Regions from separate parts of the Homo sapiens genome. Here all the other regions are reported to be linked to region 1. The links are microRNA targets in miRTarBase. Many come from high-throughput screens and were not tested one by one. Region 1 holds a microRNA gene; each other region holds the end of a gene's coding sequence.

The links. The annotated mature microRNA hsa-miR-3941 reads UUACACACAACUGAGGAUCAUA and lies in region 1 at 2,552-2,573, shown strand. An mRNA with a match to its seed (bases 2 to 7 or 8) in the 3' UTR can be bound and repressed. Matches are read on the target gene's strand: a 7mer-m8 pairs with bases 2 to 8, a 7mer-A1 pairs with bases 2 to 7 and ends in A, and an 8mer does both.
Region 2: miRTarBase lists PCNX1 as a target of hsa-miR-3941. Seed matches in the 3' UTR shown: 7mer-m8 at 1,399-1,405, 7mer-m8 at 1,861-1,867, 7mer-m8 at 4,609-4,615 and 7mer-A1 at 4,659-4,665.
Region 3: miRTarBase lists GASK1A as a target of hsa-miR-3941. Seed matches in the 3' UTR shown: 7mer-m8 at 4,026-4,032, 7mer-m8 at 4,016-4,022 and 7mer-m8 at 3,710-3,716.
Region 4: the mRNA of TOB2 is a reported target of hsa-miR-3941. Seed matches in the 3' UTR shown: 7mer-m8 at 3,405-3,411.
Region 5: the mRNA of PPP1CB is a reported target of hsa-miR-3941. Seed matches in the 3' UTR shown: 7mer-A1 at 4,331-4,337 and 8mer at 2,744-2,751.

Annotation. Positions count from the first base shown.
Region 1 is chr10:122,414,473-122,419,579 of GRCh38, forward strand. It overlaps MIR3941 (microRNA 3941), which reads left to right and starts at 2,493; the gene lies at 2,493-2,595. It overlaps PLEKHA1 (pleckstrin homology domain containing A1), which reads left to right. Exons shown (of 12, transcript NM_001001974.4): 7 at 1,387-1,530; 8 at 3,428-3,496.
Region 2 is chr14:71,109,255-71,114,361 of GRCh38, forward strand. PCNX1 (pecanex 1) reads left to right here. Exons shown (of 36, transcript NM_014982.3): 35 at 198-338; 36 at 541-5,107. The coding sequence ends at 681. Among named protein-coding and RNA genes, the nearest start is that of PCNX1, 200 kb to the left of the region's middle.
Region 3 is chr3:43,055,622-43,060,728 of GRCh38, reverse strand. GASK1A (golgi associated kinase 1A) reads right to left here. Exons shown (of 5, transcript NM_001129908.3): 5 at 3,014-4,553. The coding sequence ends at 4,343. Among named protein-coding and RNA genes, the nearest start is that of POMGNT2-AS1, 28 kb to the left of the region's middle.
Region 4 is chr22:41,432,074-41,437,180 of GRCh38, forward strand. It overlaps TOB2 (transducer of ERBB2, 2), which reads right to left. Exons shown (of 2, transcript NM_016272.4): 2 at 1,421-5,107. The coding sequence ends at 4,238. Among named protein-coding and RNA genes, the nearest start is that of TOB2, 12 kb to the right of the region's middle. RefSeq lists an enhancer at 4,823-5,107.
Region 5 is chr2:28,798,871-28,803,977 of GRCh38, reverse strand. It overlaps PPP1CB (protein phosphatase 1 catalytic subunit beta), which reads right to left. Exons shown (of 8, transcript NM_002709.3): 8 at 1,038-4,779. The coding sequence ends at 4,675. Among named protein-coding and RNA genes, the nearest start is that of SPDYA, 9.4 kb to the left of the region's middle.

The DNA of each region.
Region 1 (5,107 bases):
CTTGCTCTATGAAAGACCTTCTTAAGAGGATGAAAAGAAAAGCTACAAACTGGGAGAAAATATTTGCAAACCACATGTCCAACAAAGGACTTTTATCTAGAACATAGAAAGAACTCAGAACCCAACAGTAAAAAGCCCAAGAAATCCAATTAGAAAATTCATGAACAGATATTTCATCAAAAGATAAAAGATAAACAGATGGTAAGTAAGCACATGAAAAGATGTTCACCATCATTAGCTAGCAGGGAAAAAATACAAATTAAGAGCACAATAAAAGATCACTGCACACCTCTCAGAATGGCTGAAATAAAAGTGACGACACAAATGCTGCCAAGGTTGAGGAGAAACATAATCTCTCAGGTGTTGCTGGTGGGAATGAAAATTAGCCACTCTGAAAAACAGTTTAGTGTTTATGTTTTGTTTTTTTTTTAATAATAAAAGTAAGCTTGTGATTACTGTACAACCCAGCATTTGCAGGACTAGGTGTTTATCGTAGAGAAAGGGAAAATTACATTCACATAAAAACTTGTGCATGAATGTTGATAGCAGCTTTTTTCCTAATAGCTAAAAGTGGGAAACAACTCAAATGTCCTTTAATGGGTGAACAGTTAAACAACTGGTCATCCATCCATACCATGGAAATATAGCAATAAAAAGGAATGAACTCTAGATACAAGGAACAGTCTGGACGAATCTCTAGAGAATTATGCTGAGTGAAAAAAGATAATCTCAAAAGATAACCTTCTGTATGCTTCCATTTACATTACATTTTCAAAATGTCAAAATTATAGTCTTGGAGAACAGATTAGTGGCTGCCAGGGGATTTAGGGGTAGGAACTCTAAAGTTCACAAAGGAGCCTTGGGGTGATGACCAATTCTGGGTCTTAAATGTGGTAGTAGTTACACAGATCTACACATGTGATAAAACTGCATAGAACTGTATAGACACACATAGATGAATGTATGTAAAACTGGTGGAATCCGAATAAAGTTTGTGGGTTGTGCCAATGTCCATTTCTTGTTTTTTGATAATGTTACGCCGTTTCCCTTTGAGGGGAAACTAGTGAAAGGGTACATAGGACCTGTTGTACTTTTTTTGGGCAGCTTCTGGTGAATCCTTATAATTATTTCAAAATAAAAAGTTAACTCCTTCCCCAAAAAAGAGCACTGGTGGCAGGACTTGTGCAAAACAAGAGGAATGGAAATTTGTGCTTTAATCAGTGACAGGAAAATTAAGAGTAAGTATCTCAGATTAATTAGAAAACTCTTCAAAAATCTGTTTCTGACTAATCTAAGGTGGATTTTAAGATTTTCTACTGGGATAATATGAAATAAAAGTATGCTAAACAAGCAAGAAAATAATTTATTTATTTTGCTTCATTTTAGAAAGAAGAAGTAAATGAATGTGGTGAAAGTATTGACAGAAATAATCTGAAACGGTCACAAAGCCATCTTCCTTACTTTACTCCTAAACCACCTCAAGATAGTGCGGTTATCAAAGCTGGATATTGTGTAAAACAAGGAGCAGTGGTGAGTAGCTTAACAAAATACATGAAATAATGAAAAAGGATTACGTTCTAGCAAACTCAAATTAACATGGAAATTGTTTGCTTTATTTTATGAAAGACCCAAAGTGAGAGACCGGCATGCTGAGGAGAGTCAGGAGATAAAATAGGGGATATTCTCTGTTTATAATTCAATGCTGTTATTTGCTTGGTTTGCAGGGGGCCAGGAAAGTTAATGCCCATTACCACTGACTTTCAGTTTAAATGAGCTTTCCTAACAGTTTAATGTTTTAGAAAGTGTTTCTATTCATCTTTACTCATACTCAGGAGTGGGTCAGGGAAAGAGAGCTGTTGTGGGGAGATGGCAGGCCAGCGGCAGGAGAAGGAGTGGTGCCTAGGAGGTCTCTTCCTTGTTTAGGCATTGGCCTGACCTCCGTGGTAAGCTCTCTGACCTTGGGCTACTTACTTAACCTCTCAGGCCCTCAGTTTCTGTCTTAAGGAATATCATATAAAACCTACCATCTAGGGTTTTGTTTTGTTTTGTTTTTGTTTTTTAAGAGATGTAAATAAGAAAGGTGTGTTTCCCTTTGCACAGCACCTGGTACTTAGTAAAAGCTGTTATGGGTTAGCCCAGGTATTCCCATATAATCAGTTCCATGATGAATTTTTTGCAAGAGCAAGTAAATTTACCAATATTTCTAAGGTTGCAACATACCTTAGTATCTAAGCCATTCTTTCTATGTGAACTAAATCTTTAGAATTTCATGAGAAAATTAACTTTAAAGTTTGAAAATGTTTTTTAAGTCTGTGAGTAAAGAAATACTTAAAATTATTTTGGTGGTTCTGTTTGACTTCTCATCACTTTTTGGCAACTCTTAATTTTTTTAGGGCAGCCAGGGGAATGTCCTTTCACCTGTTTGACCTGCTTTAGGCTGAGGAAAATGATGGTGAGGGCAGGGGTTTCTTACTGTACAATGTCTGCAGGTAGAGTCAGAATTCTCATCAGGCTGTGATGCTCAGTTGTGTGTAGATTGAAAGCCCTAATTTTACACACAACTGAGGATCATAGCCTGATGGTTCCTTTTTGTTTTACTCTTAAGTCCAAAATACCAGTCAGAGATATTTAAGTGCTTCTGCAAAAACTGTTATTTTATTGACAAAAAATATTTGTACAAAATAGGTTTACTTTATTAAATATTTAGTGCTTTACTACTATGTATAAAGTACTTGTGGAAGAATTCATATGTTTTTACAGATGGAGAAACTTGATGTGGTTTAATAACATTTCCTGTGTTTGCTCTTTACATGGGGTTGGCGGGGGCGAGGAGTAGGAGGAAGGGGAAGTGCTTTTAAAAAAAAAAAAAGTTTCAACATTAAAAATATGAAATAGGCCAGGCATGGTGGCTCACGCCTGTAATCCCAGCATTTTGGGAGGCCAAGGTGGGCGGATCACCTGAGGTCAGGAGTTTGAGACCAGCCTGACTAACATGGTGAAACCCTGTCTCTACTAAAAATACAAAAATTAGCTGGGCATAGTGATGGGAGCCTGTAATCCCAGCTACTCGAGAGGCTGATGCAGGAGAATTGCTTGAACCCAGAAGGCAGAGGCAGTGAGCCGAGATCGCGCCATTGCACTCCAGCCTGGGTGACAGAGCAAGACTCTGTCTCAAAAAAAAAAAAAAAAAACACATAAAATCATACAATAAAAGATGAAAGCCAGGCACCAGAAATTGAATTAGGAATTCAAAGCCTGGGTAGCTAGAGAGGGATGAGGTTTAATTTATCGCATCTCTAAGGGAAGTAATGAGATTTTTCACTGCTTGGCATGTCTGATTGTGGGTTCATATCAGGGTAATTAAGTGGTGACTAACATTTGACATTCTTAGAAACACAAGTCTTATGTCTGTGTTCATCTCTGGTAGATGAAAAACTGGAAGAGAAGATATTTTCAATTGGATGAAAACACAATAGGCTACTTCAAATCTGAACTGGTATGTTGTTACGTCATAAATGTTGCTATAAGAATGTTTGAAAAGTGTTGCAATGTAGTGATTATATATAATTTCTTGTACTGTTCTGTAGTTTCAGAATAAGTCTAGTTTTTAGAGGTAAATATAGTTTATTTGGTTGTGATGCTTTTGGTTAATGATATTTTTCTTAAATACATTTTTAAGTAAAAAGATCCTATCTTCAAAGCAGCATTCCACCTTGAAAGATCTGAAGATCTCAGAATCCTCTAGTCTATAAATTTCCTCTAAAGGGGCTGTCCTCTTGGGGGGTTAGCCCCACGTGGAGTAGGGAGAGAAGGGCATCCACATGGGGAAGGGGTGGTGGCAGAGATGGGAGAATGGTCACATACACAGTGATTTATAAAATCAGGAACTATATTAAGTATAATAGAAGCCAAGTCTTTTCAGAGAAACAATACTTTTTGGTGAATGAATGTATATCTGTATATATGATGAGGAATGAGATATTTACATAGTTTCAAAGTACCTATCTACTAAAATAGGTATTAAGTATTGTACAAGGGGAAAAAGAGTAACATTACAGTGAGGAAAGTGGTGTAAAGAATTCTGTCTGTAAAAGTCAATATTTAACCCTCTGTATTTCTTTCTCTTGAGATTTTCTTTACCTATTTCACATTGACTCATAAATCACTTCACATAAGATGTTTTTATCTTCCCTGAAGGTAGAATCAGAAATTGAAATTCCCTCTTCGCCTTGTTTGAGTTGCATCCTTATTTAAAATATTGTAGGGTGATCTGAGTCCTGAAATAGCTTATTGGAGACATTGAATGCAATTCTGTAGTATAAATGTCTATCCTACGTCTTCTTTTTGTATGGGATCTTTGAGAAGGGAACTTATACTTTGTTTGAATGAAGTCACCAGAACAGCATTGTCCATTAGAACTTTCTGCACAAATGGAAATGTGCCGTATCTGTATTGTCCAAGGGCACTAGCTACATGTAGCTGTTGAGTGCTGGAAATGTGGCTAGTGTGACTGAGGAACTGACTTAATTTCATTTTAATTAATTTATATTTACATCATTACACACAATGGCCACTGTATTGGCCAGCAGAGCACTAGTGTATAGGAAGGGGATATTTTAAGATTCACCTCAGGAGTCAGCTCTTCTGGGAAGCTTTTAGACTCTGGGTTAAGTGTCTTCTCTTTATATGCCCTGTGGTACCCTATGCATACTTGTATCATAATGCTCTTCCCAGAGTTTTGCAATCACGTGCATTCTTGTCTTTGCAACTAAATTAAATGAGCTTCTTAAGGGTAAAGACTCTTGTAGTCTTTTATGATCACAGGGCCTGGCACTTGATAGACAATAAGTGTCTTTGAATGAATGAAAAATGGCATAGCATAGCAAGAAATGCCATTTTAGTATGGGGCTTTCTCAAAGCTTAAGAGCCTCAACTGGAAGTAGTAGTTACTTGGTTCAGAAAGTACCTGCCTTGTTGTCTCAGGAGGCTATCCTTGTGCTTGGTTAGCAGGTTGTCTCATAGATTTTATTTAAAGCCAATACTCCCGGGAAGAGTCATTCATGCAGCAGACATTCATTGAGCTCTCCATGAACCTGGTGCACTGTTC
Region 2 (5,107 bases), not on the chromosome of region 1:
CTGTCTCATGGACATTGCAGTGAGGTCTACCAGAGGGCTGAAAAGAATTCAAGATGTAGCTCTTAAGATTTTTTTTTTATTCCATTATAGGAATTTAAAAAGTAATTCCTCTCTGTGAAAAGCATTTTGTTTGAGATTACATAATTTTTCATCATCAAGAAAAAAATGAATTGGAAATGTTTTTATTTACCATGTAGATTGTGGATCCCAGTCAAATTCTGGAAGGGATCAACCTGTCTAAAAGGAAAGAGCTACAGTGGCCTGATGAAGGAATCCGGTTAAAAGCTGGGAGAAATAGCTGGAAAGACTGGAGTCCGCAGGAGGGCATGGAAGGCCATGTAAGTTCTTTTACAAGCTGGCGGTCTGGGGCTCTGCCTTTTTTGAAGTCCGCCTCACTTGGATGCATGGTTTTAGCTGATTTATACTTAAACGTATAATTTTCAGACAAAATTGCTACTACTAATCCTAGGTAGGGGTAAGAGTTTGTGAGTATATTCCAGGTCTCCAGTGCTAACTTCTTGTTTTATTCTGAATCATTAGGTGATTCACCGATGGGTGCCTTGCAGCAGAGATCCAGGTACCAGATCCCACATCGACAAGGCAGTGCTTCTGGTCCAGATTGATGATAAATATGTGACTGTAATTGAAACTGGGGTACTAGAACTTGGGGCTGAAGTGTGAGCCAGTGTTTATTATAAAGACATTTCTTTTTCCCTCTCAATTCCAAGGCATTGGAAAAAGAGAGGAACAAGCAGAAGATGCCTGCAGGTATCACTTTGATCCTATGTGGGAGCGACTGAAAATAGAATGAGCTTGGTTAAGCACCTCTCCTTTGCCCTTCACCCTGACTCCTGTCACTGTCTCCATCCCCAAATAAAGCTGAAATATTTTTTTAAGTTAGCTGCCGAGAAAACATTTTGCATGAAGGATAAAGTTCTGTTAAAATACATCCTTAAAAAAAGTTTTTCCTATGCATTGCCTATGCTTTAAATCAACAAACTCTTCATTTCTAAACTATGATCTCATATTTTTCTAATTTCTTTGCCAAAAATAATTGCCATGTTTTGTCATAGAACATGAAATTCATTTACCTTGATTTTTAAGAACAGACCAGTGTAGAAATGTTCCTTTTGACTTATAGCAGTATAAAAGTTTAATGTACAGTGAAAGAGACTATGAACAGACATAGATTTATCTTATTCCTTGAGCGCTAAAAACTTTAATAAAAAAAACTGCACTAATTTTTTACAGCAATGCACTAAAGTCTGAGATTTCTCAGAACATTTATTTATATATAAAAATAAAATACCATTATTTAAATTGCCTTTGGGATTAGCCCCTTCCCTTTCCTTATAAACACAGGTAGCAGGAACTGTGCTGCTCATTTTTCTGTTAGTAGTGTGTACTTCATGCCAGGACATTGGGTATTTTCTTTAAAGTGAATATAGAATCTCAAGATATACGTAGCTTCATCATTGACATTTCCCAGAGCCAATAGTCAGCGGATCGGTCTTGTGAACACCACTGCCAGCTCCTGTGTCTACATCTCAGAGGAGCCCATGTGCTCTGCTTCTCTCCACCAGAGCAAGCTCTGCTGGGCGTGCTTCTGGGAAGAAAACAATTTTCTTTAAGAAGAAGATGAATGTCCAGGAATTTAAAGAAAGGATCGATTGCCTTTTATTTATGAGTTTCTAGCTCTTGAAGTTATTCACATGCAGTTCAGTTAGTCAAGTAAAATTTTTTTTCAAATAAAAGTATCCAAGTGGTGCAGTTATTATTATATCCCTCTTTAATAATTTTGCTTTTTATTTTTCCCCTCTTCTTTTTCTGTTACTTGAATTTTATTTCCTGTAATTTATAGTGTGTAGCTGTAAATTGAAATATTTATAACTGTGAAATTGACTTAATTCATATGTTGTCTCATAACTTTATTTTTTTTAAATGCATATTCAGGGAAATATATTACTCATATTTACAATTGGGCGATATAGGAACTTCAATTTAGATTTAATTTGCAACTCTTAGCATTTTTTAAATCCTTGATAAAATTTTCCCTTTTGGTGTGAAACTCCAAAGAAAATTGTACATCTCCTCTGAGCATTTAGGAGCAGCCATCTTTCTACCCCTTGTGAATAAATCATTGAAAGAAACAGGTAAAATTAATTTTAATGATACATTTTGTTTCACCCAGTATAGTCAAAGTATTACTATTTCATCATATGTCACTAGCCATATTTCAAGTACTCAATAGCTACATGTACCTAGTGGCTACTGTATTAGACAGTACAGATTTAAAGTATCTTTTGTTGAGGTGACAGAAGAGAGAAGCTGTTTTTCCTACCAATTCTGATGTAGATCTCACATTATAGCATAACATTACAGTAGAAGGAATGAAAACTAAGAAAGTAAATAGTGAACATACAGAACTTACTGCATTTCCACTTTAAAACCTATTTATTTTCCCTTTTTCTAATTTTAAACTTTTGTGGTCATTCAGAACCTAATGTGCCTTGTGTTGACATTTCCATAGACTTCACACTTTACAAAATTTACTGTTTAAAAATACTTGTCAAATGATTTACTGAACCTTTATACAAAAGTACCCTTTCTAAATTGACCATTTAAAAATGTATTTTTGTGATACCGTCATTATGTTCTGCATTTGCCTCATTTTGGCAGATCTACAGTATGCCATTAAAGTTTAGTGTTGTTTTTGGTTTTGGAGGGTTTTTTTCTGAAACTGAATTTATAATCTATTTCTCTGTATACGTATATTTTTAAAATCTTCTGAAAGGAACTATGTTCCCTGCTGCTTCTTCCCTTTCTGAAGTGAATATGATCTTTTCATGGTCATTGCCTAGATAAAAGTAGAGCCTTTTCAATCTTAGATGGAAGATAATTCATTTTCCCACACAGAAAAAAAATCTGACCTTTACATGATTTAATCTGAAGGGCTAGAATTTTTTAATTTCTAGCCCCTCCTCCAAAAAAATTTTAAACACATCACATACTCTGAAAAGTCAGATTTCAAATGCAAGACTAGACTTTATATGGAACATATATGTTGGGTTTTGATTTTGGGTAGCAATTGACATATATTTTTCTCAAAACAAGTTGAATTTTGTTAACATATATAATTCTTTAGTGAATTTATAAATTAGGAACCCTGAGAAGAAGCCCTGTTGTTTTTCTTAAGAGTCTAAAACTGACAATCTTTTAAAAATCATAATACTTTTCTAGTAATTGCATCAGGGAATTGGTGATAATTGAAGAAAGATCCATTTCTTAAGAATAATTTGATCTAAATTATTATATGGAAATAAACATACTTGTGTTAACTAAATTGATCATAAATTCTTGTTCCTGCCTCACCCCTCACCCCCCAGAGAATAGTGAGTGACTCGTTTAGATTCTCTGCTTTTTTTCAGTTATGTACAAGACTTCAGCATACATTAATGTCTTTAGTTTATAAATTTGCCAATGCTTTAATTTCCATAATTTGAAAGTTAAAAGATGTAACTAAAATACTAGCTTTTTTATTCATTTCCTTTTGGTGGAGTTGTATGATTGAAAACTTTGCTTTTTCTTGTTTAATTCTTCCGCCACCCCCTCTTTTGAGAGAAAGGTAATCGTGGAATGAGTTATAAATTATTGCCTTTTTTTCCTTTATTTCTTTCATTCAGTGGCAAAAAACATTTTATAACTCCTAAGTTTTTGGTTAATCTTCCAACTTATACCTTGGTGTGAACTCTCTTTTTACACCATTTTCAACACTGGATAAAACTTTAATGTTGACTTTTTGCTAAAGAACTTTAATTTTTCCAAGAATCTAGATTAACATAAGATGTTGATATTTAAGGAACTTGGAAGAGTAAGTGGTGAGGCTGTATGTATATTTTTTAAGAGATTACCTTTTAGGAAATTAGTGAACAAACTTAACCAGTGTTCTGCCTTCTTTGACTTTGTTACTGGAGGATGATAATCTATTTCTATTAGATTCGAAGTATTTTGGAAAATATTTCAAGTATATCTGAACTACTTATAATTCTTAAAACAGAAGTAGTCAGACAATATTTGTATCCTAAGTGAGATATGGAAAATTACTCTGTATACTAAATGTCAGGCAATGAAAATGTAAGTTTTTGTGTAGAAAACCCATTAAGAAGATGTGTTTTTCTTTCTGAATTAGTTTATTTTTCCATCACATACCAAAATATAAAAATCAGCCTCACATTTTTCAGCAAGTTTAGCTTATAGCCTTGATAAATTCCTCTGTGCTTCTGAGCAGCATCCTTCTGCCTCTGCTTAGCAGCTCTGCATTTGGTGGATTGCTGTTGTGAGTCATTCATCCAGCACTGGGCCTTTTAAGCTGAAGATTCACCCAGTGTCTAAAGTTGTCCTTTTCTTATAGCTAGCTTTCAAGCATCTTTCCTCCTAAATAAATATGTGACTTGAGAAAAAGGTAATAATGATTTTGTCAGAATTCTTTGAATTTATATTTACTAGCTACTTAACCATAAACTGCTGTCCAGATTGTTAATTTCATTTATATTTATTTTAATTAATTTGTCATGAATATGGACAAAGCCTTTTCTGGGGTGTGTGTGTGTGTGTATGTTTGTTTTTTAAGTCGTCATTATTCATTCGTATTCTTTTTCTGTGTAATGTAATCATATAAAGTTACTTTGGACAGAGACCCAGTTAATTTTCTCTTTTGATAGGATACATGGTTTAGATAAGGTATAAAGTGTCCCTTTTTATTCTAGAGGCTTTTCCTTTAATTCAGAGATTAGTGGAGATAATAACGTCAGTCAAGGCTAATGTGGTACATGGAACTTGCTAATGGAGGTTGGACATTCTGTTTCAGTCTTACATGGATATTGTTTCATTGGTGTTGAGGAAGAAAAAAATTAGATACTACCATGCATTGGGACAGCATAATTCTAATATTACATTGAATATGGCTTTTTAAAAATAAGTATTAAAAAGCCAATCGTTTTCTCCATTTATCTATCTTTTTTGTTTGTTTTTAATTTGGTTGATTGATATGCACCCAGGCCGTCTTATTTTTACTTGTTAAATGTCTGTCTAGGAAGAACTGTGATTG
Region 3 (5,107 bases), not on the chromosome of region 1:
CCCTGCCAGGCAGATTTCCCCTCCTTTCTTAGGCGGCCACCTCTGCCCCATTTCAGTGTAAAGGAAACCTGCTCTCAGAATGTGGCTCAGTTTGCCTACCCTTCCAGCTGCCGGGCCAGTGCCTTCACCTGGATTACTAGTTAACTTTGTTTAATTCTTACAGCCAGGCAGTATGGAAATCAACAAAGACCACCCAAGGGAGAACAGACAGAGGCTTGCTACGGCAAGGGGGTCAGCACCATCACTTGCATTTGGCAGGGACTCCAAGACAGGCAGGGACTGGGAAAGCTTTATAGTGAGAAAGAAAGGGAAGGCTCCAGGTGCACCCTGATTGGAGGCTGCTGGCATGAGAGACACTGGAGATGGGCAAACTAGAGGTGGGGCATCCTAACTGATTGGTTAGGGGAGCATATTTGGCTTTCTCTGATTGATCCTGAGTTGGAAGTAGGGACAAAAATAAGGAAGCTGGCAGTCACTGACTAGGTCTTCACCCTACTGAGCAGATGCTACAGACATTGTGGTTGGTTCTCTGAGCTGGTTGCTACAGAGGTGGTGGATAGAGTTTTATTATTATATGTAGTTTGGGCATTGTCCACTTGCATGTCAGTCTCTCGGTGGTGAGACAGGATTAGATCTGTTTTATTTCAAAGCGGCTGGTTAAGTCACAAAGTAGAATGAGCCTCATCCTAATGTGAGAGCTCCACATTATGTTTTGCAATGAAATGTTTCTTTGTATTCCTTTCTTCTTGCCATTTTCTAGGATGACAAGTGTCTCACTCCCACCTCTGGCTGAGTGTAGGTCTACCAGGCAGAAGGCAAAGCAGAGACTGTTAAACAGAAACTGGCTGAGGCCTAGAGGAACAGCATCACTTGATAAGGGTATCCTTGGAAAGAACTGAGAACACAGGAAGAAGAGAGGAGAAAAGACAAAAAGTCAAAGTCAAATAAACATTGGTGACCTTAAGAGAAATGCCTGAAATCTCTAAATCCAAACTCCCTTTTCCAAGGGCCTGAGTCTTGCCCAGGACACTTCTACATTTCCACGCCCACTGAATATGCCAGGCATGTTGGTTTATTGCAGGCCCCTGTTACCTATCTCCTACATTAGGTTGTAAAAGATCTAGCAAAAGGCACAGGGCCCAGATGGTTTTATGGGAGAGTGCTATAAAACTTTTGAGGAATAAATGGTTCTTATTTAAACTCTTACAAAGCATTAAAAAGATAAAATAAAATTCTGAATTTATTTTATGAGGTATGTTTAAATTTAATAGTAAGACAGCCATGGAGTGCCCAAAAAGGAAAACCTTATGAATGTATATGCAAAGATTCTAAGTAAAATATTGGCAAGTTAAATTCTGCAGTTCCCAAAATACTAACATACCTCAGCCTAATAGGTTTTTTCTGAGAATGTAAAGATTATTCAGCATTAGAAAATAAAGGAGAAAAACTATATGCTCAATAGATATTGAAAAGAGCATTTAATAAAATTCAATCCCCATTCTTGATTTTTGAAAAATGGTTTTAGTAAGCTAAGAATAAAAAGAAACTTCCTTAACTTAATGAAAGATATTTATCAGAAATGATTTCTTTAAACCTGACAAAACATAATAGAAACCACAGAGGTGTTCCCATTAAAGTCCAGAATAAGATGTGGATGCCTACTATTGTTGCTATTATTACTCAATTTTCCTCCAGAAAGCTCCCAACCTAAGTAATAAGACAATAGAAATAAATGAGAGGAGAACACACACACACTTATGAAATATAAATGTAAAATTATCATTATTTGAAAATATTATTTTCTACTTAAAAACTATAAGATATGCACCTAAAATTCTATCTAGAAAAATCTAATCAAGAAAAAGAACTCATTCTCAATAGGAGTAGAAATTGCAAACTATCTTTAAAATGAGCTTATTTGCTGAAGAAAACATTAAAATGTTACTAGAGGCCGGGTTCGGTGGCTCATGCCTGTAATCCCAGCACTTTGGAGGCTGGGATGGGCAGATGCTTTGAGCTCAAGAATTCAAGACCAGCCTGGGCAATATGGCAAAATCCCATCTCTACAAAACAATACAAAAATTAGCTGGTCGCGGTGGTGTGCACTTGCCGTCCCAGCTACTCAGGAGGCTGAGGTGAGAGGATCACTTGAGCCCAGGAGGTTGAGGCTGCAGTGAGCTGAGATCTTGCCACTGTACTCCAGCCTGGGTGACAGAGTGAGACCCTGTCTCAATAAACAAAAAAATGTTGCTAGAGATTATCAAAGAATAGGTGGATTGATAAACCTGAATGAGAGCACTCAATATTCAAATAAGTCAGATTCCCACTAATTATAAATTCTATATAATCACAATCAAAACACCAATGGGATTTTGAGGATAAAAGGAGAGGGGTGGCATGCTTCATAGACTGACATTATCACATGAAAGACAAATGCACAAAAATAGCAAAGGAAAAAACTAAAGTAGAATAAAAATATGGGAACTCAGCCTACCAGACAGCAAAAAAGAATAAAGTAACTTTAATTAAAACACTGTCATACTAATGCAGGAACTGAAAAATAATATCAGAACAGAGTTCACAAATGGACCTCTGTGCATGTGGGAACCTAATATCTGATAAAAGTATACTTTCACAGCAGTAAAGAAAGAATGGACTATGAAATAATGTTACAGCAACTAACTATCCATTTGAAGGGAAATGAAACTTGTTAGATCCCTAACTCACACCATTCTCTGCTTAAATCCATATAAAATATAGGTTTTATATATTAATTTAGAGGGAATATATATGAAATATATGAAAATATATAAGAAATACTATATAATATATAAGAAATACTGTATAATACTAGAATAAAACACAGATTATTTCAATAATCTTGAAGTGGTGACAGCCTTTCTAAGAAGGCATGAAACTCAAAAGACTTAAAGGGAAGGATAAACAAATTTGACTACGTGGAAATTAACATTTTACACTTGGCAAAAGACTATAAACAAAGTTAAGAGACAAATTAGAGGCTGGAAGAAAACATTTATACCAAGTCAGCAGAGAAAAGATTGATCACACTTATTAGAGTCAAAGATTTCCAACAAATTAACAAGCAAAGGGCAAACATCTTAAAACAAAAAGACAATGCAGAAAAGAAAATACAAATGTCTGGCAAATAAGTGGAAAGATGACTTCATTCATGATTAAGGAAATGCAGCTTTTAAAATCGGTTTTCCTCCTAAATAGGCCAAAAAAAACCCAAAAGTCTGAGAATGCCAAGTGTTGGTGAAGGTGTAGAAAAATAATCAGTCTCCTACCCTCTTGGGAGAAATGTAAATTGACACCACCATTTCAGAGAGCAATTTGGCAGTTTCTCTCAGAATACTGAATGCCCATACCCTTTGCCCCAGAAATCCCGTACGGAAATCTACCTCGCAGAAATACTTGCACGCCATGCAATCATGTTCATGGCGGCAATGTCTGTAATTGATGAAAAATTGGAGCTACTTAAATGTTCATGATTATGGGACCAGCTAAAGAAAATATGACACATCCCTGCCTTGGAATTTCATGCAGTCACCAATAAAGATTGGGTCAATTCAGATGGCTGATACAGAATATAGTTAATAAAGTAAAAATATAGTGAGTTGACAAAGCATGACCACACTTTCATTTTTTAATTTGCATGTAGTGTGACCATGAATAACACACACACACATACACACCGCTAGGGAGTTTGTGGGACTTATGCTTTTTGTCATATGCTTCTATTTTTTATGGACTTGTTTTTACTGAGCATGTATTACTTTTAGACTTTTATAATTTTTTAAACCAAAAACATAACTGAGTAATAATTGAAAATTTAAAGTCTATAAAGACAAACGCATTATGTTTCATTTCTTAAGCCTGAGTCTACTTTCAGCCAGAGCAACTCCAGGCTGCAAGTGCAGTTCTATGAAGATTGTACCTTTATTAGGTTGGTCTCAGGTATTGCATGCAGGCGGGCACACATGCCACCCACACCTACACACCTCTACACACACACAAAGTTCTCCCACTCTGCATATGCACGTGCATCACACATTTTTACAGTTTCTTGAGCAGCTCACAGAACATTTTCGAATGTATTTGTTGGTGCAAGGGAATAAATAGCCAGAGCCGAGAAGGCAGAAAGGGACGCTTTGAGATTGAAAACCCCATACTACCTCCACCATCCCAGGCAGGTGAAATATCCCGTGACATCCTTGTGCCCCTCTGGCTTCTGGCTTTTCCCATTTGTCCTCAAGATGAGTGAGCCCAAGAAAATGTGGCCATCAGGATGGATGCTCATTGACTCAGGGCTGTGTGCGGCTTATGGGTCCTCGTCCCTGAAGAGTGTGAGGTTGTGCTTTTGGATGTGTCCCAGCAGCACCTGTCCTCGCTGCTCCAGGGTCTGGAGGACCTGCTTCAGCCCCTGGGCTCCGCCTTGGCTTTCCCAGAACACTGGGTCCATCTGCAGCGACTTCAGCAGCATGTTCTGTAGACACCCTGATGCGAGAACCTTCACGGCAGACTCAGGAAACCTGGAGCAAAGGCCCCAGAGCCCCGTAACAGAAAGAAAAAGCAACAGTAATCTCAGAGAATTTCAGTAACAGGTGATGCCAGATGGCCAGAGCTTGCATAGCTGAGGAACTCTGGTAAAGTCACCTGGCAAACTCCCCAGACCTGCACCTGCTATCTCACTAACAGAGGACCCTTTGCCTGGCTTTGCTGTGAAGGCAGGGGACAGACCTTTCAGATGGGTCCCATCCTACAGAGAAGCCAGGTGAATAAATTCCGCTATCCCAGGCTCCACTTGGCAAATGCAGGGCCAGAAAGAATCCTGGGAAGGCAGAGCTGCCTGCCAAGAGTGAGCTGGGAGGGGTAGACTCTCTGGCCTAGCTCTCTCACCCAGAACAAGGGAAGGACTAGCCTTCCCACACCCCAGCAATACAGCTAGTATTCTGCAGGCACGAGGCCCTCTGGATATTGGGGTAGGCCCTGCCAACTGTATCCCCTCTCAGCTTTCCCAGGGCTCCCCACCACCGCCTAAAGTTCTGATCCAATAACTTCTGTCTGATGGACTGTGGGCTTCTCA
Region 4 (5,107 bases), not on the chromosome of region 1:
CCCCACTGATGCCCCAGAACTGTTTGCCCCCTACCCCAGCCCAGTGGTGGCAGTAGAGGTGGCAAGGTCATCCCCTGCCACCCTTAACCTGTATCACTCTTCTATAGCAGTTATAATTGTATCAAATGCATGTGAGATGTCAACTCTGGGAAGGCAGACACTGTCTGATTTATTCTCCAGTGGACAAGAACTGACGCTGCCCAGTATCACTTGGATCAATAAATGAAAAAATCAGACACGAGTCAGAATCTTTACCATTTACTAGTTTTATGAGTCTAGGGTAATCTAAGTTGGAGCCTATTTCTTTTTTGTTTGTTTCTTTGAGACGGAGTCTTGCTCTGTCACCCAGAGCAAGTGGCGTGCAATGGCGCGATCTCAGCTCACTGCAACCTCCGCCTCCCGGGTTCAAGAGATTCTAGTGCCTCAGCCTCCCAAGTAGCTGGTATTATAGGCGCTCGCCACCACACCCAGATAATTTTTGTGTTTTTTGTTTTGTTTTTTTTTTTTTTTTAGTAGAGACGGGGTTTCATCATGTTGGCCAGGCTGTTCTCAAACTCCTGACCTCGAGTGATCCGTCTGCCTCGGCCTCCCAAAGTGCTGGGATTACAGATGTGAACCACTGCACCCAGCCTATTTCTTAACTGCAAAATGGAGACAATCCCTGTGAGGATGAACAATCCCTGTGAAAATTCAACAGGATGAGGAATGGTGGCTCACGTCCATAATCCCAGCACTTTGAGAGGGAGGCCAAGGTGGGAGGTTTCTCTCCTAGATGGGCAGCATTGATAGGCACAGGCCCTGGGAAGGGGAAAATATGGCCCGGGCCACTGGGAGATAGCAGAGCTCCTAAGGAAATCGGCCACTGGCAGAAGGGTGGCTTTCTCTGGGCTGGGCTGTCTCACTCTTAAGGCAGCTCCGAAATTGTCCAGCCCAAGAAAAGGGTTGAGAATCCAAGCACCGGGCTTTTGGATGGAACCTGGCTTAGGCAAGCTGTTCTCATCCTTGCCCACATCTAAGGATCTAGTACTAAGGATCAAGTACTAGATCTAGAGTAGGCTGGAGGCTGTCCCCGCTCTCCTCCCCCCAGGAATAGACAATTCCTAAAGAGCCATGAAGTACCCCGTTCTCCAGGCTCTGCTGCCACCACCAACTGGCTAAGGGAACTGGAGCGGTTTCTAACTTTGTGGAACCTGTTTCCAGTGTAGAAAAGCATCTGCGGTAGCAAGCACAATGATGTATCCTGTGTTGATGGGATGGATAGGTGGTCAAGAAGGGGCACCAGGACAGTTATGTCCATCCGAGGCTGTCACTGTAAGGAGGACCAATCGTTTCTTGGAGTCTGTAAGGGCTGGGCCACTCCCATTCTCTCCATCCCAAAAGGGACCCCAGAAACCAAGCAAGCCAGGAGCAGGCAGAAGGCTATTATGTATCATGCTTTTAATACAAACTTAAAAAAATCTGGAACAATAGAAACTGTACAGATTTGATCAATCTTTTTGTTTTGTTTTTAAACTAAAATCTCTAAACACACCAATGTCCCATTCCAAAATATTGCACAACATTCTGAATACAAAACCCTTGATTGTATTCCTCCTTCACTAAAGAAAAAAGTTCATGACCCTGCTCCCCGGGCTCCTCTCCAGGCTTGCCTCAATGCCCCCTTCCCATCCCTAGGGAGAAAACTAGAGAATCTATAACTCACTGCATTGAGAAAAACACATCATTCTGGACTAACAGTTTCCATTCTTCAGAAGATAATCCACCTTTTGATTTGTTCCTGGGAAAGAGGGATAGATAGAGGATGGGGAAAGGGGAGAAAAGGTTTTATTTCTCCTCTTTTTTTTTTAAAGTTTGTTTTTCCTGAAAAAATATGTTTCTCTCATCTTTTTAAGAAAAAATCTTGAAAAGAAAAAAATTATGTTTTTTACGTTAGAAATATACATATATTATATACCTCTTACATTTTACAAATGTAGCAAATTATTCAATACAAACGGACACCAAAAAATGTAAAAAATAAAAAAAAGTTTTCCTACGAAACCAGGTAAATTAGTGCAGATTTCTGTTTTTGTATTCTTAAAAAAAATAAAATTGAAGCAAAAATGCCTAGATTTGAGACAAGACAGACTGAACTGGGCCCAAGAGCGCAGCACTGGAGTCATGCTCCTGAACACACATTTTTCTTCGTATTTCAAAAGACACAAAGGGGTTGGTCTCCCCTCTCTCCCTACATGTGAGAAACAAGCCGACCTGGTGTGGGTGGGTGCCTGTGTGTGTGGATGGGAGGAGGGCTAGAAGGGGATGTAAGGCAGCATCCAACCTTTCCCAGAGAGAAGCTATCTGCTGGGTCTGTCACCTGTGTGGGAGCCGAGGATGAGGGAAACAAAGGGTGGCCCAGACTGGGCTGGCCCCTGAGAAGTCTAGGGGAACAGATGGTGCTGGGCTGAGAAGCCAGGACATTGCCTGCCGGGGGAGGTAGAGCTGGTGCCTACTGCAGGGAGAGGAGGCTGGCAGTGCTGGCCTGGGCTGGACCCACTGCCATAACAGTTGCCTACTTGGGGTCCCTGGGTAGGATGGAGTGGGTGGGGTGCCAGGGGCTTTGGTGCTTTCTGGTGATTGGGACCCTGATGCCAAGTGCCCACTTTGCAAAGAAGAAAAAGTTAATGACCCTGCTCCCTTGGCTCCTGTCCATGCTTGCCTGGCCTCCTAGAGTTGGAGGAACAAGCCCTCTCCTGGCAGAGGCAGGAGAGCAAGTGCTCTCCTATGATCCAATACATCAGGCGGGAGTGCTGAGTCCGTCAGGACACCACTCCTCGCAGCATCAAGGTCCAGTGGGGTTGGGTCAGGGCAGTGAGAAGGGGTGGCAAGAGGTACCAAGAAGCTCTCAACCAGGCAGGGGCACAAATGCACTCAACACCTCCAAACTAAGAGACCCCAAAGTCTCAACTCCAGGCTCAGGGCTGCCCCCGCACAGACACTAACTCTAAAATCCCACCCTGCCTCTCTGCCCACCCCCAAGGGTGCTCAGGTGAGCAGCTCCCTCTGGGCTAAGGCCAAACAACAGGAGGGTTGAAGTCCAGGGACTTCTCATAGGCATCAGGGGCTTGGGTATTCCCTCTGCCCTTCAGAGCTAACTTATTATTATTTTTTTGGTCAAAAACAAAACTGCAGATCCTTCCACAGTCTGCAAACCAGTTCCTTCTGCAGTGTTTTCCTCTGGGAGTGTCTTGGGCTAAGCCACAGCGGTGTCACCCCACCACACACACTGCCCTGCAAAAGGACTGCCAATACCCCCAGCCCATTCCCCAGCCTCACATATAAATAAGGACTTGCGACCCAGAATCACATCCAGAAGGGAAGTTTCACATGGCTTGGAATCCTTTAAAAAAGGACAGCAAACCAAATACACACACACACACCCCTCCCTACCCACAACATCCAGCCTGGGGAAGAAGGGGCTGCATGAGGGAAAGAAAGCCCATACACATCAATGGCCAGGGCCATGATGATGGTCTGGGCCTAGAGGGAATGGTGGGGTGGGGCCATAGGACAGAGATGAAAGGAGTTTCACTAGACGAAGTGCTAATCTCCCTGTAGTCACAGACATCAGCTCCAGGGGGAGGGTGTCAAGTGGCCAGCCAGCAACTCCCTGTGGCCCAGCCTGAAAGGGAGTGGGGACTGGGGTCAGACCTATTCAGGTGGCAGGGCCCGAGAAGGCCTGCTGAGGTTGGATGGCTTTGAGTGCGAGGATAGCTGGGTGACAGAGGCAGTGACACGGGCCAGCCTCTCCCTGTTCCAGGGAGGGTCAGGCTCCAGCTGCAGCTCTTTCTTCCCTATGAGCTTGGACACATCAATCCTAAACTAGGAGTGTGAAGGAGGAAGGGAGGAGCAGGGAGCAGCAGTTCACATCTGGACCATTCTTAGCACAGGAAGCCACTCATTAAAGATGTTATATAGAAAACTACATGTAAGAAAAAAAAAAAAGAAAAAGAAATATAAAACCCAAACCAACCAAATAAATCACAGGCCGGTGGGCGAGCGGTAAGGGGTGAGTGAAACACACTTGGGTGCTTTGCAGGGCCCTCCCATTCCGTGCCTGGGCTGGATCTTTTTTCTAGAAGTAAGAGTGAGAAGATCGAAAATCTTTTTGTACATTTTTCTTTTCCTCTTTTTTTTGGCCTTTCCTTTCTCTTTTCTGTGGTCTTGGGTGCTCCTGGCCCCACGGGCAGGTAGATGGTCAGTTGGCCAGCACCACGGGCTGGAACTGCTGGCTGGGATACTGCATGGTGTTCAGGTTGTAGCTGAGGCCTTCCACAAAGGGTGTCTTCTCCAGGAAGAGGCTGTTGGCACCACCTCCAAATACCTGGGCCATGTCAAAGCTGCTGCTGTTGCAGGTGCCAGCCCCACTGCCTCCAAACGGGCCTGGGGTGCCGCTGCCCTGGCCATCGGCCGCATCAAAGAAGAGGCTGGGTGAGCCACCACCGTTGTACACGAACTCCTTGGCATTGGGTGAGAGCTGGGACTGAGGGGCCGGGTTGGCCGTGATGAAGTTCAGTGAATGCATAGACAGAGAGAGGCTCTTGTGCTTCAGCAGGCTGTTGGTGGGTGAGCGGGCCATGCGAGGCTGCTGTGGTGGCTGCTGGCCACCCGCCCCACTGCTGGCTACACCCCCACCACTTGCTGCCCCGCCCCCCTTCTTCATCTTAGTGGAGCCAAATTTGGTGGCAGCGAAGGAGGCGGTGGTGAAGGTGATGGGCTGAGCGGAGCGGGGAATGAAGGTAGGGCTGGGTGACTGGCCAAAGGATGGCGATGGGGAGTTGGACAGGGAGCTGTCCTGGCTGCCAATGGGCACGAACACCTGGGCGTCAGGGTTGAAGCTGCTCTTGATCTCCTTGTCCAGCTCTGGGGCACCGCAACCCTCACTGTCATCCAGGTACAGCACTTTCACAGCTCCCTTCTCACCAATCTGGTAGGACACCTCAAAGGGATCAATCCAGACACTCAGCTCCTCAGGCACATTGGCCCGCACATCTTCCACCGCCAGGCCACTCCGCTTGGCGGCCAGCTCCACCACGGGGTCCACCATCTCCCCAATGTGAACACAGCG
Region 5 (5,107 bases), not on the chromosome of region 1:
ATAACCTGCTGGTAAACAGCAGCACTGTCAGAAACCATGCCAATTATCAGTTTGAGTTATACATATATTGGAGGTAGCATTTCAACACTCTGGTTTTGTTTCTTTGGCTTTTTTTTTTTCCAAAAAATATACTAGGAGATTTAAGACTTACTTCAGATTAAACTTGTTACATTAAGAAAACACTCTTGGCCGGGAGAGGTGGCTCACGCCTGTAATCCCAGCACTTTGGGAGGCCGAGGCAGGCAGATCATGAGGTCAGGAATTAGAGACCAGCCTGGCCAACATGGTGAAACCCCGTCTCTACTAAAAATACAAAAATTAGCTGGGTGTGGTGGCAGGCTCCTGTAATCCCAACTACTCAGGAGGCTGAGGCTGGAGAATCGCTTGAACCTGGGAGGTGGAGGTTGCAGTGAGCCAAGATCATGCCATTGCACTCCAGCCTGGGAGACAAGAGCAAGACTCTCTCTCAAAAAAAAAAAAAAGAAAAAAAGAAAAAAAGAAACTCCTCTGGACTACTTTTTTCTGTTGCACTGTATTACTTGCCTTTGTGGTTTTGTCGAGAATCAGTGTTTACATGATAGACCATAAATTACTGTGCCTTTTAATAAATTTGTACAATAATCTATGAAAGTTCTAGATGTTTAGCTGTGATGTCACTGGTTTTGTAGGAAAAATTTGGCCTGTAAATCTGCTGAATCATTCTGATTAGGCAGCTGTAAAAATTAATACATATTTTAACTTGCCGATCCTATGCCAGGCTTCACTGAAAAGCCTCCAGGAACAGACCTTAGGTTCCCACCTTTTTGCATATAGTATCTGAAAGGAATGCTGAACCTATTAGCCTCAGGCCGTTAGTTTGTTCTCTCTTACACACACACACACACACACACACACACACAAACCCTCCCCACCCGCACCCCCTGTTCACTTGCTATCTTCCACCCTGTATACCCCAAACAATGTGGTGTTGTAAGTAAGATTTCATAATCACATAAACTAGCAAAGATCCCTAAGAGGAAAGAAGCAAAGATTTATGGTCATTTTTGTAAAAATAAGGTTTAATAAAACATCAGCAATCTGCATGAGAAGGTAAATTACAATGAGAAACTTAAAAAGCTTACGGTCTAAGTCAACCAATGTAGAAGGTAGTGGTTGAAGAAAACAAGCTTTGACTTTTAAAATTTCCTAACCAGGGGATTTATTTAGAAATTCTGGCATTCAAATGTACATGTAAAATCCAATTTAACAGATCAAAATTGTTACACTAAGTTTCACTTAGTATCTAAGTATCCAATCACAATTGTATCTAAGTTTCACTTTTAAGAAACATTATAAAGGTAATTAAAACTCTAGGTGTATACTTATATGGAACTAGTTTATTTCCTATTTAACTACTGTTCATTGCGTAAAGTATGTTGTCCCAATTTTCAGCTGTTTTAAGGAATTATAAAACATTGAGATCTACTAGGAAGAGGGAAAGCCTACTTCTAAGTGATGCCACTAGTACAATCAGGCTTGGATTAAGTCTCTTCTCAGGGGCAGCTTTGATTTAGCCATGGACTCACAAGGAAAACAAGAGGTGGATTTGGTTAGGGAGCAACAGCAAATTCAGCCCGACCATATTCCTAATCTAAACACATTTTCAGCATAAAGATGTAAAAACAATTTTTTTTGGTTCAAAAGTTATGGTTGCCATGGAGACAAAAAGAATATACCTGAATTTATAAACTGAGATATATTTCAGCTCCTTGGCTTAAAATAATACATCTTTATATTCTTGAGACATATCTCAAGATGTTCCTTGCTTTGCCTTGAATAAAAATTTTTTTGAAAAGCCTATGTTTCTCGTGAACACACTCATACTTCAAATTTACCACCTATTTTAAGCTTTAAAATTCTTCTTGCCAGCATTTTTCAGCTAAAAAAAATCATTTCACGAATGTTTAGGTACTTTTTACAATGAAGGGATATGGCAGCATGGATACTGGGTAGCTGGCTAGGCTCTAAATACCTGATGACTCAACGCTTTGCACAAACCAGTCTTGCTGATTATTAAAATTTGTCCCTGGGCAAAATTAAAGCAATGCATGTTAAGGCTTCAAATGCAAAGGATTCACTGTAGTTGATTCTTTCAAGAATAGAAATCGACCATAACTTTGCTTTATAATCCATGTGATACACCACATTATAACAGATATCTACTGTGTTTCATGATTTCTGAATGTCATAACATTTGGATTAAATTGTATACAAAAAAATCACTAACCTGAAAAAAATCAGAGGAAAGAACAATATAAATTAGTGACACTGGAATTACAGAATCATTTTCTCCTAAGAAACAAAGTTTTATTTATTTCAAGTCGTGTTGCCAAGCAAATATTTGTAAAGAACACATTTTTATGACTGGAGGCTGTTTAAGTGGTTTTAAGAGTGCTTGAATAATTTTTAAACATGATAAATTTCCATCCTTTAAATTTAATGACCAATATTAATTAGCTTAAGTAGTGATTATTTTTTCACATTTAGTCTTTAAAAAAAAAAAAAAGGATTCCTATTAACCAACATACTTAGTCTTGACCTGGATGAATTTACAAAAGCCAGACAATGGGATACAGATTAATGTGGTTTAATACTGAGATTAATCAACATTGCCCTTTTTCCCTGCCAAAGGCTTATTTTCTAGACCTGCTTCACTATGACTACTAAAAGTGTACAACTAAAATTTTATTAGAAATCGCTCAGCTTACACACTCCAATCAGGAAGTTATTTAAATCACCTCAGATAAAACCTTTGTGACCTAACCTAATACATCATATGCAGATCATGAATACTTTCAGAAAAGAATCATTTCAATATGTCAAGGACATAGTATCTATGTGAATAAAATGTGTGCTTAAATGTCTCACTGTAAGGAAAAAAAAAATCAGTCAGGCTTCATATCAATTAGACAACTTTTACTAAATGAGAAAACTACATTTAAAATGTGCTTTAAAACAAAACGGAATTAGAAAAAAAGACATATGCATTTTAAAGAACTTTTGCACTGTGCTGAAAATGAAATATCTCTTGCAGTAAGTAATACAATGTGCCAATTCATAAAATGTAAGTTAACAGGTTTCTCAATTTAACATTTTCAAAGACGATATTAAGGTCAAAAATGTCACATCTATGGTAGCACATATAGAAGGGCATTATAGATATGATGTCCATCCCTATGAAGCTTACAAATTTGACAATGCTCAATAAAAGCTTTTAGAATCACATCCAATAGTGTCACAGTCAAAGAATCACAAATCTGTGTCCTGTAAGTTCTCTCCTTCTAAAATCTTCATGTTAACTTTTCTACTCATTGCCATTTGTTAATACTAACCCTTAAAAAAAAGAAATAGGAAAAGAAAGGCTGCAATAAACTTGATCAGGTACAGAAATTATTGCTACTATACTTCACTACAAAGCTTGTCTATACAGTATCATATGACCTTTGATTATGAAAAAATCAGAATAAAAATCTTTAGTGACATAAGCCTTACAATCGTATACAACATTCACATGGCAATATTAGACAGTTAAGCACCCAATACCCATAGTTGACAAAATGTCCCACTGACCAGCATTCATTTAAATACATCCTTCGTATAGAGGGAGGAAAAAGAGACAGTGTCAGCTTTCCAAGGCTTGTCAAAAAAGGATTCTCATGTACTGTGGATCTAAAAACAAACAACAACTCAAAAAAAAAAAAAAAAAAAAAAAGAAAGAAAAAAGAAAAAGAAAACCAATGCAGGTGAAGGTGTTACCAGGAAGTTAAGCATGCCAAAAGGTGTTCCGTGCGAATGAAAACCTAAAGCCAAGGTACCACATAATCACATTACCAACTAGTTGGGTAATACTATATGAGCCTTATCTTAAATGAAATGCTACTGCACAATAGAGCATCAATAAGTTAAAAATTAGAGTGCACAAATCCAAATCAGTGTCAATTCCTGTATAAAGCAAAATATTCACTATCAGCTGTAAAGTTTGCCCAGTCAAACTGTATGATTAAAATCACTGGATTGGACAATGTGCGTATTTTTTTTTAAAACAATCAATCTCTAAAATTCCTTTTTAATGTAATGAGGCGAAAGTTTTCTTAGTAAGATTAAACAGATATCTAAGTAGATAAACAAGGGAAAATAATAGTTGGTGAATGTCTGTAAAGCTCTTCCCATATTTCACTTTTAAAAATGTTTAGGGAAAAAAATTAGAAGTATTTGCCATTATTCTAGTGAAAACAAACAAAAACAAAACAAGCTCAAAATAATTAAACAACCAAGCAACACTAAAACCACATTACACAGATGGATCATCATGCTTTCATCTGGTTTAACTATCACATCTAGTTTAACTGGGATGCTTTTCAACTTTAAAAATTGTGATACATGAAGATGTAACTTTAATGGATAATTTTGAATTTGGATTTAACTTTGTTGACTATAACAGAGTATACTTATTACAATACAGTGTAGCACATCTTTCTATTAGAAAAAAATTTAAGATCCTTTACCCGTCTCCTTAAGTTAAAGGTGTGACATCATAAAGGGTGTCAAATGGCTGGATGGTTTTACAGTGCACACTTATATATTATGAAGTATGTCCTTAACAAATCTGATGGTTTCTTTACAGAATTCCTTTCTTCACCTTTTCTTCGGCGGATTAGCTGTTCGAGGTGGAGTGACAGGACGTCCAGAATTCAGTCCACCATACTGGTATTTAGCTTTCTTTTCAGATGGTTTCAATATCTTAAAGTAAATTATTAACAAATAATGTTATTTTTTCATGTACAGAAGTTAAGAAAATTGTTACAATTGTGATTTTCAATAAATGGCATAAACTGCAAAAATGCAATAAAAATGTAGAATAGCAAAGTTCCATAAACATTTCTTAAAGTGTGCAAATGTCTGAACTTTGTCATTCCACTCATATTTTAATAACAAAAGTACACTAACTCTATCAACTATCCAATCCTTAGATTTAAGTAAAAAACTTTTTGAACTTAGTGTATCTCTGTTGTGAGGAAAAGAACACTGGTTTAAGAGTCAGAAGATCTATGTTGTCATCATAATTCTG